Homo sapiens: one gene and its partners. The protein of the gene in region 1 interacts with the protein of each later gene in a biochemical or structural test. Each region holds a gene or a part of one and is shown in the gene's direction. Other genes may lie near its edges. The genes, in order: SEM1, RAD52 and RPA1.

Region 1 (3,651 bases):
TTCTTTCTGTACTTTGGAAAATTATTTTTCTTGTAAGTATGCCATTGACAAATTCACTAACAGATACAAATTAAAATTGGTGTTGTTAAGGCAGCCTATGAACATCTCTGCAGTCTATAACAGATCTTACTTTCAAACGCTTTGTTGAGTGTCAGTGCTCCAGAAAGTGGATTTTATCCACTCTCGGGTAACTTGGAGTATAGAGGTTGCCACATGAAAGTCGTTACTGGTGGTTCGACTAATAGATTTTCTTTTGGGAGTGGGTCTTTCTTTTGGGAGTGGCGTTGCTACATCCCATCTTGCATAAGAATATGTTTGGTAGGATGTTCATTTAATCATTTTAAGGAAAGGGAATTTTTATTGTTTCTTCTCTCTCTCTTTTTTTTTTTTTTTTTTTTTTTTTGTTTGTTTGAGATGGAGTTTCACTCTTGTTGCCCAGGCTGGAGTGCAGTGGCGCGATCTCGGCTGACTGCAACCTCCACCTCCTGGGTTCAAGCGATTCTCCTGCCTCAGCCTCCCGTGTAGCTGGGATTACAGGCATGTGCCACCATGCCCGGCTAATTTTGTATTTTTGGTAGAGACAGGGTTTCTCCATGTTGGTCAAGCTGGTCTTGAACTCCCGACCTCAGGTGATCCACCCGCCTCTGCCTCCCAAAGTGCTGGGATTACAGGTGTGAGGCACCATGTCAGCATAGTTTCTTCTCAATAGCCCTTCAATGTAAAGTGCAACATCTGGAAGGAGTCTCTGAAGGTACAAATGCTGCTTTTATTTTTTCCCCCATTCTATAGCCTGTGAATTGGTGCTACATTGGCATTTCCTCACAATTATTCTAATTGGTGGGTGTGTAATCTTCTGGTCATTAAGCAGGAGCTGTAAAAAATCATATTTAGGATCTTTGTGATATACAGCCTCCAACTTCTTGACTACTTAAACTGATTTAGAACAGCCTTTATTAGGAAGACATTCAAGGTCCTGGGTGTGATTGATTTTGATATGATTTTGGAAGCTTTGAAATGGTTAGAATTCTAGGACCGGAGGGCAACTTAAAAGTCTAGAGAAGATTTCATTTTTCAAATCATACGGTCAGGTTGGTGGTGATAGAGTCAAAAACTGAAGTAGTCTATAATTTATTTAAAACTTTTTTTTTTTTTTTGAGACAGAGTCTCGCTCTGTCACCCAGGCTGGAGTGCAGTGGCGCAATCTCGGCTCACTGCAAGCTCCACCTCCTGGGTTCACACCATTCTCCTGCCTCAGCCTCCCTAGTAGCTGGGATTACAGGTGCCCGTCACCACGCCCGGCTAATTTTTTTTGTAGAGATGGGGTTTCATGGTGTTAGCCAGGATGGTCTCGATCTCCTGACCTGGTGATCCGCCCGCCTCGGCCTCCCAAAGTGCTGGGATTACAGGCATGAGCCACCGCGCCCAGCCTAATTTATTTAAAACGTTGACTACTTTTCCATATCAAATTATTGAAAGAGTTTTAAAAAATATTTTTATTAGTTTCTCTGACAATTAGATGTGGATTCGAGTAAAAGAGGGAAGAGAACAAGTGCTCCTTTAGATTCTTTTATTCTCTTCCTGTGCCAGAATTGAAAGGGTTTTTTTTTTTTTTTTGAGAGAGAAGCTTTTTTAGAATATTTAGAATGAAATTGAGTTTGCCTGCAGCAGCAATAGCGTTTACAAGAGTGATATTATACTAAGTATTCTATACTTTTTCTGTATTAGGTGAAATTTCTATATAGTCTGAAGAAATCAGGAGCAGAATACTACCCACCTTCCCACCCTCTGGCCCCTGGAGAAATTTCTGGATAAGACAGTGTTATGATGGGAATCTGTCTGTTGAGGCAGACAACAGACTGGTGATCCCCTAATGCTGCCAGCATTCTGGAATAAATGAGGCATTATCACCTGTGCCTTAAAAAGTATGACATCTTACAGTGGTTCTTAACCAAGGGAGTGTTTTTGGATGTCACACTGACTTGACAGGTAGGAGTGTAGAAAAACTGCCAGCATTTAGTGGGTAGAGGTCAAGGATTTTATATTTGTGCCTGCACGAGGAAGAACTGCCCTGTGAAAAATGCTATTGAGAAATATTTATGTGAACAGCATATACCAACAGGACTAAACATTCAATAGGAGGATTCCTTAGAATCTTAAATGTAGAAGATAGATGTGACCAGTATTGATAATGTCACACACCATGCTAGTCAGTTTACCTAGTGCCAAAAAGGGCTTTTGCTGTTTTTGCATTATTAAATGTAATATAGTGGACATAACCATTAAACATTTGAATTAGTTACATGGTGGTAGCAAGAAATGGAGAACTCATGTTACTAAAAATTTTTAAGAAAAAATGTGTAATCTGTATAATGATTCGAAGAGTACCTGTTGAATGTCCATTTTTGATAATTGTGTGCAAGAAGAAAGTTTTTGAACCCCAGGATAGAATAAGCATGATGAATCTAGGATTAGGCCTAGGTTCAAATCTACCATTCATAAACTTTCAGCTAGTCACCTCATGCTAGTTACTTAACTTCCTCTTTAAAATATTTTTGTAGTATATTATATAGGATAATTGTATAAGTAACCGCTTATGGTAAAAATTTAAACTTAATGAGAGTATAAATTAAAAAGTAAAAACACAGTTTCCCTCTACAATTCCCCAAAAAAGTTATTTATGTCCCAGTGATAACCAACGTTAAATGTTTTTTTCTTTAGTATCCTTCCAGAATGTATTTATAAATTGTACTTGTTTGTATGTATCCTTTAAATACATACACAGAAGACATACGATATATACTATTTCCTCCTACTTGATTTTTATTATTTAATGTATCTCAGGTACATTTTTGCATCAATATAAAAATCTACCTCATGCCCTCATTGTGTTCATCTTAAATAGTCTATTTAACTAGTCCCTTCTTGATAGATATTAGGGTTTTTTCTTTGGTTCTTTTATGTATGTGTGTGTGTGTGTGTGTGTGTGTGTGTGTGTGTGTGTTTTTAAGAGACAAGGTCTTGCTCTGGTGCTCTGTCACCCAGGCTGGAGTACAGTGGCGCTGTCACAGATTATTACGGCCTTGAACTCCTGGGATTGAGTGATCCTCTGTCTCAGCCTCCCTATCAGCCTCCCTAGTAGCTGGGAGTACAGGCATGTGCCATCTCACCTAATTTGTTCTTTCAAATTTTTTGTGGAGATTTGGTCTCGTTATGTTGCCCAGGCTGGTACTGAACTAATGGCCTCAGCAGTCTTCCCATCAGTCTTCCCAGGTGCTGGGATTACAGGTGAGCCACTGCACCTGGCCTTTAAAAGAAAAAAAAAAAATGGAATATGCTGCAGTGAATAACCTTATAGCTTTAGGGTTTTTGTTGCTTGGGTTTTGTTGTTTTTTTTCTGTTACAGATAATGAATATGTTTACATCTTTTTGTGTGTGTGCTAATCTATAAGATAAACTCCTAGAGAAGAATTGCCAAATTGAATTGGCAGACTCATTTTTTATAATATAATTTTTATTTTGAAATAATCTCAAACTTACAGAATAGTTGAAAGTACAGTACAAACATTTTTCTCTAAACCATTTGTGAATAAGTTGCCAACCTGATGGCCATCACTCCTGAGTATTTTAATGTGTATTTCCTACAAGGACATA
Region 2 (3,651 bases), on another chromosome or scaffold:
TTCTTTCTTTATCTGAACTCATATTTCTATTCTATTTCCCCACTGGTTTTAATCCTAATACATATTTATGGTTGAAAGTTTGGCTAGGCGGGGTGGCTCATTCGTGTAACCCCAGCACTTTGGGAGGCCCAGGTGGAAGGACTGCTTGAGCCCAGGGATTTGAGACCAGCCTGGGCAACATAGCGAAAGCCCGTCTCTACTAAAAATACAAAAAATTAGCTGGGCATGGTGGTGTATGCTTGTAGTCCTAGCTACTCAAGAGGCTGAGGTGGGAGGATCACCTGAGCCCAGGAAGTCGAGGCTGTGGTGAGCTGTGATTGCGCCACTGAACTCCTGGGTGGAAAAAAAGAAAAGTTTTATCGGTAGCCTTACTGTGCTTCTCTGCCTTTGCCTGTGTATAAAAATAAAAATTTTTGGTAAATTTTCAGTGCACTTAAGGCTCTAAATATTAAAATATTTCTTTTGGATTTAGTTATATTATAGCTACTGTTAACACACAATTGACCAGACAATTGTGTTTATGGTGAAGAGAAAACATAAATACAGCAAAATTTTGATACTTAGAAAAATTAAAGATATGAAATCTTGCCACAAAAATAAAAAATTTAAAATATAAAATTTATGGAAAATGTATATCTTAATGAGATGGATGGTGCTGTTTTTTCTTTTCAGTTAGTTTATATATCCATATATCCATAACTGAATATTACTTACTTCTTTTTTTTTTTTGAGATGGAGTTTTGCTCTTGTTGCCCAGGCTGGAGGGCAATGGTTCAATCTCAGCTCACCGCAACCTCCACCTCCTGGGTTCAAGCGATTCTCCTGCCTCAGCCTCCCAAGTAGCTGGGATTACAGGCATGCGCCACCCCGCCCGCCTAATTTTTTGTGTGTGTTTTCAGTAGAGACGCGGTTTCTCCATGTTGGTCAGGCTGGTCTGGAACTCACAACCTCAGGTGATCCACCCGCCTTGGCCTCCAAAAGTGCTGGGATTACAGGCGTGAGCCACCGCACCCGGCCTACTTATTTCTTGAATGAACAATTCAGCATTAATTCTATTCTGACTTATTTTTCTAAATAGTACTAAAAAATCTTGTATCTATGAGTGAGTAGCTGAGAATGGAAAGAATTGTGTTATAGTGTCACTCATTTATTTGAGTGCTTTCTGAGTTATTTTTTAAAAATCACAGAGCGCTGTCATCAAACATTGTATTTAATTCTCAATCAGCGAATGATGTGCTCAGGTCCACCTTCTCTTTTGGTGAGAGGCAGGAGCTGGACGCCACCTGATTTACAAAGGGTTTGCTCTCCCGTCCTTACAGACCATTAGATCCAGTGTTCAAATCATCCCTTTGTTTCATATCCCAGAGGTTTTTTTTTTTCCAAGACGTAGTCTCACTCTATCACCCAGGCTGGAGTGCAGTGGTGCAATCTCGGCTCACTGCAACCTCTGCCTCCCAGGTTCAAGTGATTCTCCTGCCTCAGTCTCCTGAGTAGCTGGGATTACAGGTGCCCACCACCACACCCGGCTAATTTTTGTATTTTTAGTAGAGATAGGGTTTCACCATGTTGACCAGGCTGGTCTTGAACTCCTGACCTCAAGTGATCCACCTCCCTTGACCTCCCAAAGGGCTGGGATTACAGCGTGAGCCACCACGCCCGGCCCGGCCATCCCAGAGGTTTTTTTTACCTTAGGGTGATGCACACTGATAGGATTTGGGGTGAGTTTCTAATGTGCCCTTTGTGTGTTGGGAAGTTGGGAAGGGAGGATCGTCTTGACACCTTGACCGCAGGCACATGTCCAGGCAGCCCAGGTCTAGGAAGCAGCACTCGCGATGGATTCTCACCCAGCCTTCTGCCCGTGCCCCTGTAGCAAGGCCGCCAGGTGGGAGAGTCCGGCTTTGAACCCTGCTGCTTGAGGAACAGGGGAGTTGTGGCACGCCTGCCGCTCTCGTGTTTGAGTTCAAACTCCTTTTCTGCCCCCAGGATGGTTCATATCATGAAGATGTTGGTTATGGTGTTAGTGAGGGCCTCAAGTCCAAGGCTTTATCTTTGGAGAAGGCAAGGAAGGAGGCGGTGACAGACGGGCTGAAGCGAGCCCTCAGGTGAGCGCGGGGCTGGGAGTCTAACCTGCGTCATTTCAGCTCTTGCTTCAGAGCAGATTTCGATTTTTTTTGGAAGAGGTAACACATCCACATGGTTCAAAAATCCAAGCAGCGTGGAAGGTAATTCTCACCCCTGCCCTGGTTCCTGTCTGCCGTTTTCCCACTTTCGTTAGTATTTTTTCAATGTTTCTGTTTCAGGCTTCCCTTGCTGGGAGTAAGTGGTAGAATCCTGTACTCTCTCTTCTCCGTGCACTCAGTCATGTGTGCCGGAGGCCTTCCCACTCCTACTGCGAGTGCACAGACAGCACCCTCCTCTCCGTGCTCCTCAGCAGTCCTCCGCTACGCACAGGTAGCATAGTTAACGTAGTTACACAGTCACGCAGATGTCCGTGTTAGTCCATTTATGTTGCTATACAGGAATACCAGAGGCTGGGTAATTTATAAATAAAGGAGGTTTGATTGGCTTATGATTCTGTGGACTGTACTGGAAGCCTGGTGCCAGCATCCACTTCTGCTGAGGCCTCAGGAAGCTTCTAATCATGGCAGAAGGTGAAGAGGGAACGTGGAGAGAGAGGGAGCAAGAGAGAGAAGGAAGGAGTCCCAGGCTTATTTATTTATTTTATTGTTGTTTTTCATTTTTTGAGACAGGGTCTTGCTCTGTTGCACAGGCTGGGGTGCAGTGGTGCCGTCATCGCTCAGTGCAGCCTTGAACTCCTGGGCTGAAGTGATCTTCCCGCCTCAGCCTCCCGAGTAGCTGGGATCACAGGCACATAACACCACCCCCAGTTAATTAAAAAAAAATTTTTTTTTTTTTGGAGAGACAGGGTCTCCCTTTGTTGCCTAGGCTGGTCTCAAACTCCTGGGCTCAAGTCATCCTCCTGCCTTGTGCCTCCCAAAGTGCCGGGATCACAGGCATGAGCCATCATGCCCAGCCCCCACACTCAAAACCACCAGATCTCTCATGAGCTGAGTGAGAACTCACTCAACACCAAGGGGATGGCACTAAGCTGTTTATGAGGAATCCAGCCCCAGGATCCAGTACCTCCCACCAGGCCGCACCCCCCGGCATTGGAGGTCACGTTTCAACATGAAATTTGGAGGGGATAAACATCCAAACCATATCCGTGTCTTTGAGAATTGAAGTGAATTGAACCAGAAAAACCTATGAGTTCTGTGGGGGAGTCCGTAGATCCCAAGTTAAGAACTCTGGTCATGGGAGGTTGTGCCCTTGAGCCCCCGGTCCCCAAGTGTGTGTTGCCTACTCCTGCTGGGAAATTGGAGCAGCCTTTGGGGGGAAAAAAAAGAAAAACTCTCTGCAGTTTGTTCTCCATGTCAGGAGGTGGCTGGTGGGTTTTGTGAATGGCGCCGTAATCTTTTCATACTCATCTTCTCTGTGAGGGCAGGGACTTGTGTCTTGTCCTCACTGCAGTATTCTCAGAAACTAACACAGTGCAGGAACATGCTAGATGCTTACCAGACATCAATGGGGAATGCATGTTAGGGTCCACTTCCTCTGCTGCTCCTGAGAAGCAACCTGTACAAAAGTTGT
Region 3 (3,651 bases), on another chromosome or scaffold:
AGCAAAAGTGAAAATCAGATCACAAGCAACTTGCAAACATGACTTACTCTGACATTTTTGGCAATGGCTCCGAATGTGAAGTGGTTTGTCACTGAGAGGGCACTGTGGAGGGAGCCGGTGAATCACCCCGTGGCAGCACCTTCCTCGTGGGCTCTGGGCGTGTCCCTCAGTATTCAACTTTTTTTGTTTTTATTGTCAGAATAAATTAAACTCGTCATTGCCGTTTTGTTCTGTTCTGTTTCTCAGTTGAGGCTAATGCAGCATGATTATGGGATCGGCTAGCTGAAATTCTCATTCTTCAGCGGGGCCAGTGACTTCAGTGTGTGACTGTAAAATGCGGGTTCCTGGGATGTCCGTAGCCCTCTCTGGACCCTGTTTGTGCAAGGGCCACTGCTCTCAAGATGTCACTTTGGTGCTAGGGTGGCCTGTGTTCTATCCCAGTGTCACTTGGGTGCTGGGGTGGCCTGTGTTCAATCCCGCAGCCCTAACCTGCCCACGTGCTTCTGCAGGGTGAAATCCGAGCTACAGCTTTCAATGAGCAAGTGGACAAGTTCTTTCCTCTTATTGAAGTGAACAAGGTATGGCCGTGCTGACTTTAGAACTGACACCGCCTGGGGGTGGAGTGCGGATGAAAAGACGCTGGCCCAGGGGAGGGGTGTGTGGTGGCAGACTAGGGGTTTCTGTCCGATTTGATGGTAGTCTCAGGTTCTGTGGCTTGGCCTCCTTCGCAGGTGTATTATTTCTCGAAAGGCACCCTGAAGATTGCTAACAAGCAGTTCACAGCTGTTAAAAATGACTACGAGATGACCTTCAATAACGAGACTTCCGTCATGCCCTGTGAGGACGACCATCATTTACCTACGGTTCAGTTTGATTTCACGGGGATTGATGACCTCGAGAACAAGTCGAAAGACTCACTTGTAGGTAAGCTCGTGTATGAGAAGGAAGAGCAGGGATGACTAGCTTTCTTTGCAGTGTACGGGGTGGTGTCAGGCTTCAGTGCTTGCCGTTCATCATTTGCTGGCGTCGGAATGGGAGTCTTGACCACCTCCTGCTAACACGTGCATGTGTTTTAGACATCATCGGGATCTGCAAGAGCTATGAAGACGCCACTAAAATCACAGTGAGGTCTAACAACAGAGAAGTTGCCAAGAGGAATATCTACTTGATGGACACATCCGGGAAGGTGGTGACTGCTACACTGTGGGGGGAAGATGTAAGTGCTGGGATGGGGTCTTCAACACGCACAGGACCTCCTGGGGTTGGGGCGTGGTCTTGTCCTATAGGATGGGGCCTTCAGCACACACAGGAGGAGCTCCTGGAGTTGGGGGAGGGAGTGGTCTTATCCTATAGGATGGGGCCTTCAGCACACACAGGAGGAGCTCCAGGAGTTGGCGGAGGGGGCATCTTGTCCTATAGGATGGGGCCTTCAGCACACACAGGAGGAGCTCCTGGAGTTGAGGGAGGGAGGGGTCTTGTCCTATAGGATGGGGCCTTCAGCACACACAGGAGGAGCTCCTGGAGCTGGCGGAGGGGGCGTCTGTTCCTATAGGATGGGGCCTTCAGCACACACAGGAGGAGCTCCTGGGGTTGGGGGAGGGAGGGGTCTTGTCCTATAGGATGGGGCCTTCAGCACACACAGGAGGAGCTCCTGGGGTTGGCGGAGGGGGCGTCTTGTCCTATAGGATGGGGCTGTTAGCACACACAGGAGGAGCTCCTCGTGGGGGCGGTTTTGTCCTATGAGTTGGGGGCTTTCACCATGTAGATGGGAAGGATTGTGCTGTCTGGTAAGTATTTAAAATCCTTTATCTTACTTCTGTGAGATTTGCTGTGATTCAAGCTTTACGCGGGGAAATGCTCTTTCCCCTAACTCTAGGAAAGCAGTGATAGTTTTGATGTGTCTCTGAGTAGATTCTCATGTGTGAGGTCTGTCTTGTATGGATTCCATGTACGCTGATTACATTCACTCTACTATTGAATGTTTGCCTTGTTTTCTATAAAAATCTTCTGTGTTCTTCCTGCTAGTGACACTTGTATATGTCTGGTGTTTCTTTTACAGGCTGATAAATTTGATGGTTCTAGACAGCCCGTGTTGGCTATCAAAGGAGCCCGAGTCTCTGATTTCGGTGGACGGAGCCTCTCCGTGCTGTCTTCAAGCACTATCATTGCGAATCCTGACATCCCAGAGGCCTATAAGCTTCGTGGATGGTAGGTTTTGTGGGGCTAAACAAAGGGTTACTTGAGGCTGGGCTTTGAGAAAAGCTGGTTACAATCAGCATGGGAGCTTTCTGCCAAGCAGAAGCCTTCGTCCCTGAGTGGTGCAGCTTCCGTGTTTCTTGAAGGCATTATGCCTTCTGTGAGGAGGGCTTTAAAGCCCTTAAACGGACAAACCTGTAATCCCAGGACAAACCTAGAGAGTCGGAGGAGGCAATTAGCATGTAAGTGCTGCCTGCTGACCTCGATCCTGCCAAAGGAGGGGACGGCCAGGCTTCAGCAGCGGTGTGCTGAAGGCGCCTTTCTTTCCAGGGTTTAGGCTCTGGGCCTCTGTGGCGTGGGGGAACACATGCTTTCTTTCTCTGTCAAGTCTTTGGTGCCGATCACATCTTCTAGTGTGTATTCACTAGACTCTGATCAAGTGTGGTGAGAACAATGGGCTTTTTGTTAGGATTAGATTGTTATTCCCAAAGCACTCAAGGGATGAGGAGAGCCTGTTAAAATCTCCTCACTGTATCTAGCTTTTTAGGACATTCAAACTCTGTCTTAAAAGAGTACTTCAAACTGAGACACAGGATGCAAGAATTGATGTGGTCAGGGAAAACACTTTCACCCAAGCTTCAATAATTCCCATAGCTGTAGTCTATGGGGGGGAAGTGTGTCAGTTTCCAGCTGTGTCTTAGGATTTAAGCAGCTAAAGAATGAGCTCATTTTACATACTCCTCCTTTGTTTTGAGTCATTTAAACCAATGGCACTGGTGTTTGACCAGTTTCATGAAGCATCTTCTGGAATGTTCATGTCACTGAGCCATCCTCATGAGTAGTACGGTCCACACGTATCTGCCGAACTGCAGGGCCCGTTCATAGTCTGACCAGAACTAGCCACAGATTTGCTTTTTTCTTATTGCTTGATTTTCTTTTAGGCTCTGGAGTTCGACTCCAGGTTAATTGCATTCCCACATTAAAATCGCATTCCCACATTAAAATTGCATTCCCACATTAATGTCTTCATCTTTTACTTGTCAATAATCATGATCCCAGTCAACATAAAAAGCACGGCTGTCCCCAGAATAAAATAACTTGGCATTGATCAAAGACAAGCTCAGTGCATACATGATACCTGGACAAGGATTAGAGATGTTTAGATCTTGGCTATAACAATGCAGAGTTTTTATTGTAAGAAGGGCCGCCTTGACTCCTGACGAGTGATCTTTGGTGGCAAATGTCTCCTTGGAGCTTTTGAAACCGTGAACTTGTGTAGCTAGTAGTGGTGAAACAGATGGATGGGCCTTGCTGTGCCCCTGTGAGGGATTTAGCCGCTTACCTGACAGGAGAAGGCAGCTGTCTGCAGCTCAGGGTAACATCCATTCTGTTAGATGGTCTCTGTTTAAGGAACCTGTTCTTTGTGTGGTTACCCACCTTGGGATGGTATTTGGC

The links.
Region 2: the proteins of SEM1 (region 1) and RAD52 form a complex in vitro, tested with the Homo sapiens proteins (one study listed by BioGRID).
Region 3: the proteins of SEM1 (region 1) and RPA1 are reported together in a solved structure, tested with the Homo sapiens proteins (one study listed by BioGRID).

Annotation. Positions count from the first base shown.
Region 1 is NC_000007.14:96,703,323-96,706,973, reverse strand, and holds part of SEM1 (26S proteasome complex subunit SEM1), read left to right. Parts: intron 1-3,651. UniProt on the Homo sapiens protein: Component of the 26S proteasome, a multiprotein complex involved in the ATP-dependent degradation of ubiquitinated proteins.
Region 2 is NC_000012.12:925,596-929,246, reverse strand, and holds part of RAD52 (DNA repair protein RAD52 homolog), read left to right. Parts: intron 1-1,983; coding exon 1,984-2,102; intron 2,103-2,300; coding exon of another isoform or gene 2,301-2,451; intron 2,452-3,651. UniProt on the Homo sapiens protein: Involved in double-stranded break repair. Plays a central role in genetic recombination and DNA repair by promoting the annealing of complementary single-stranded DNA and by stimulation of the RAD51 recombinase.
Region 3 is NC_000017.11:1,878,484-1,882,134, forward strand, and holds part of RPA1 (replication protein A 70 kDa DNA-binding subunit), read left to right. Parts: intron 1-509; coding exon 510-578; intron 579-731; coding exon 732-924; intron 925-1,076; coding exon 1,077-1,216; intron 1,217-2,059; coding exon 2,060-2,208; intron 2,209-3,651. UniProt on the Homo sapiens protein: As part of the heterotrimeric replication protein A complex (RPA/RP-A), binds and stabilizes single-stranded DNA intermediates that form during DNA replication or upon DNA stress.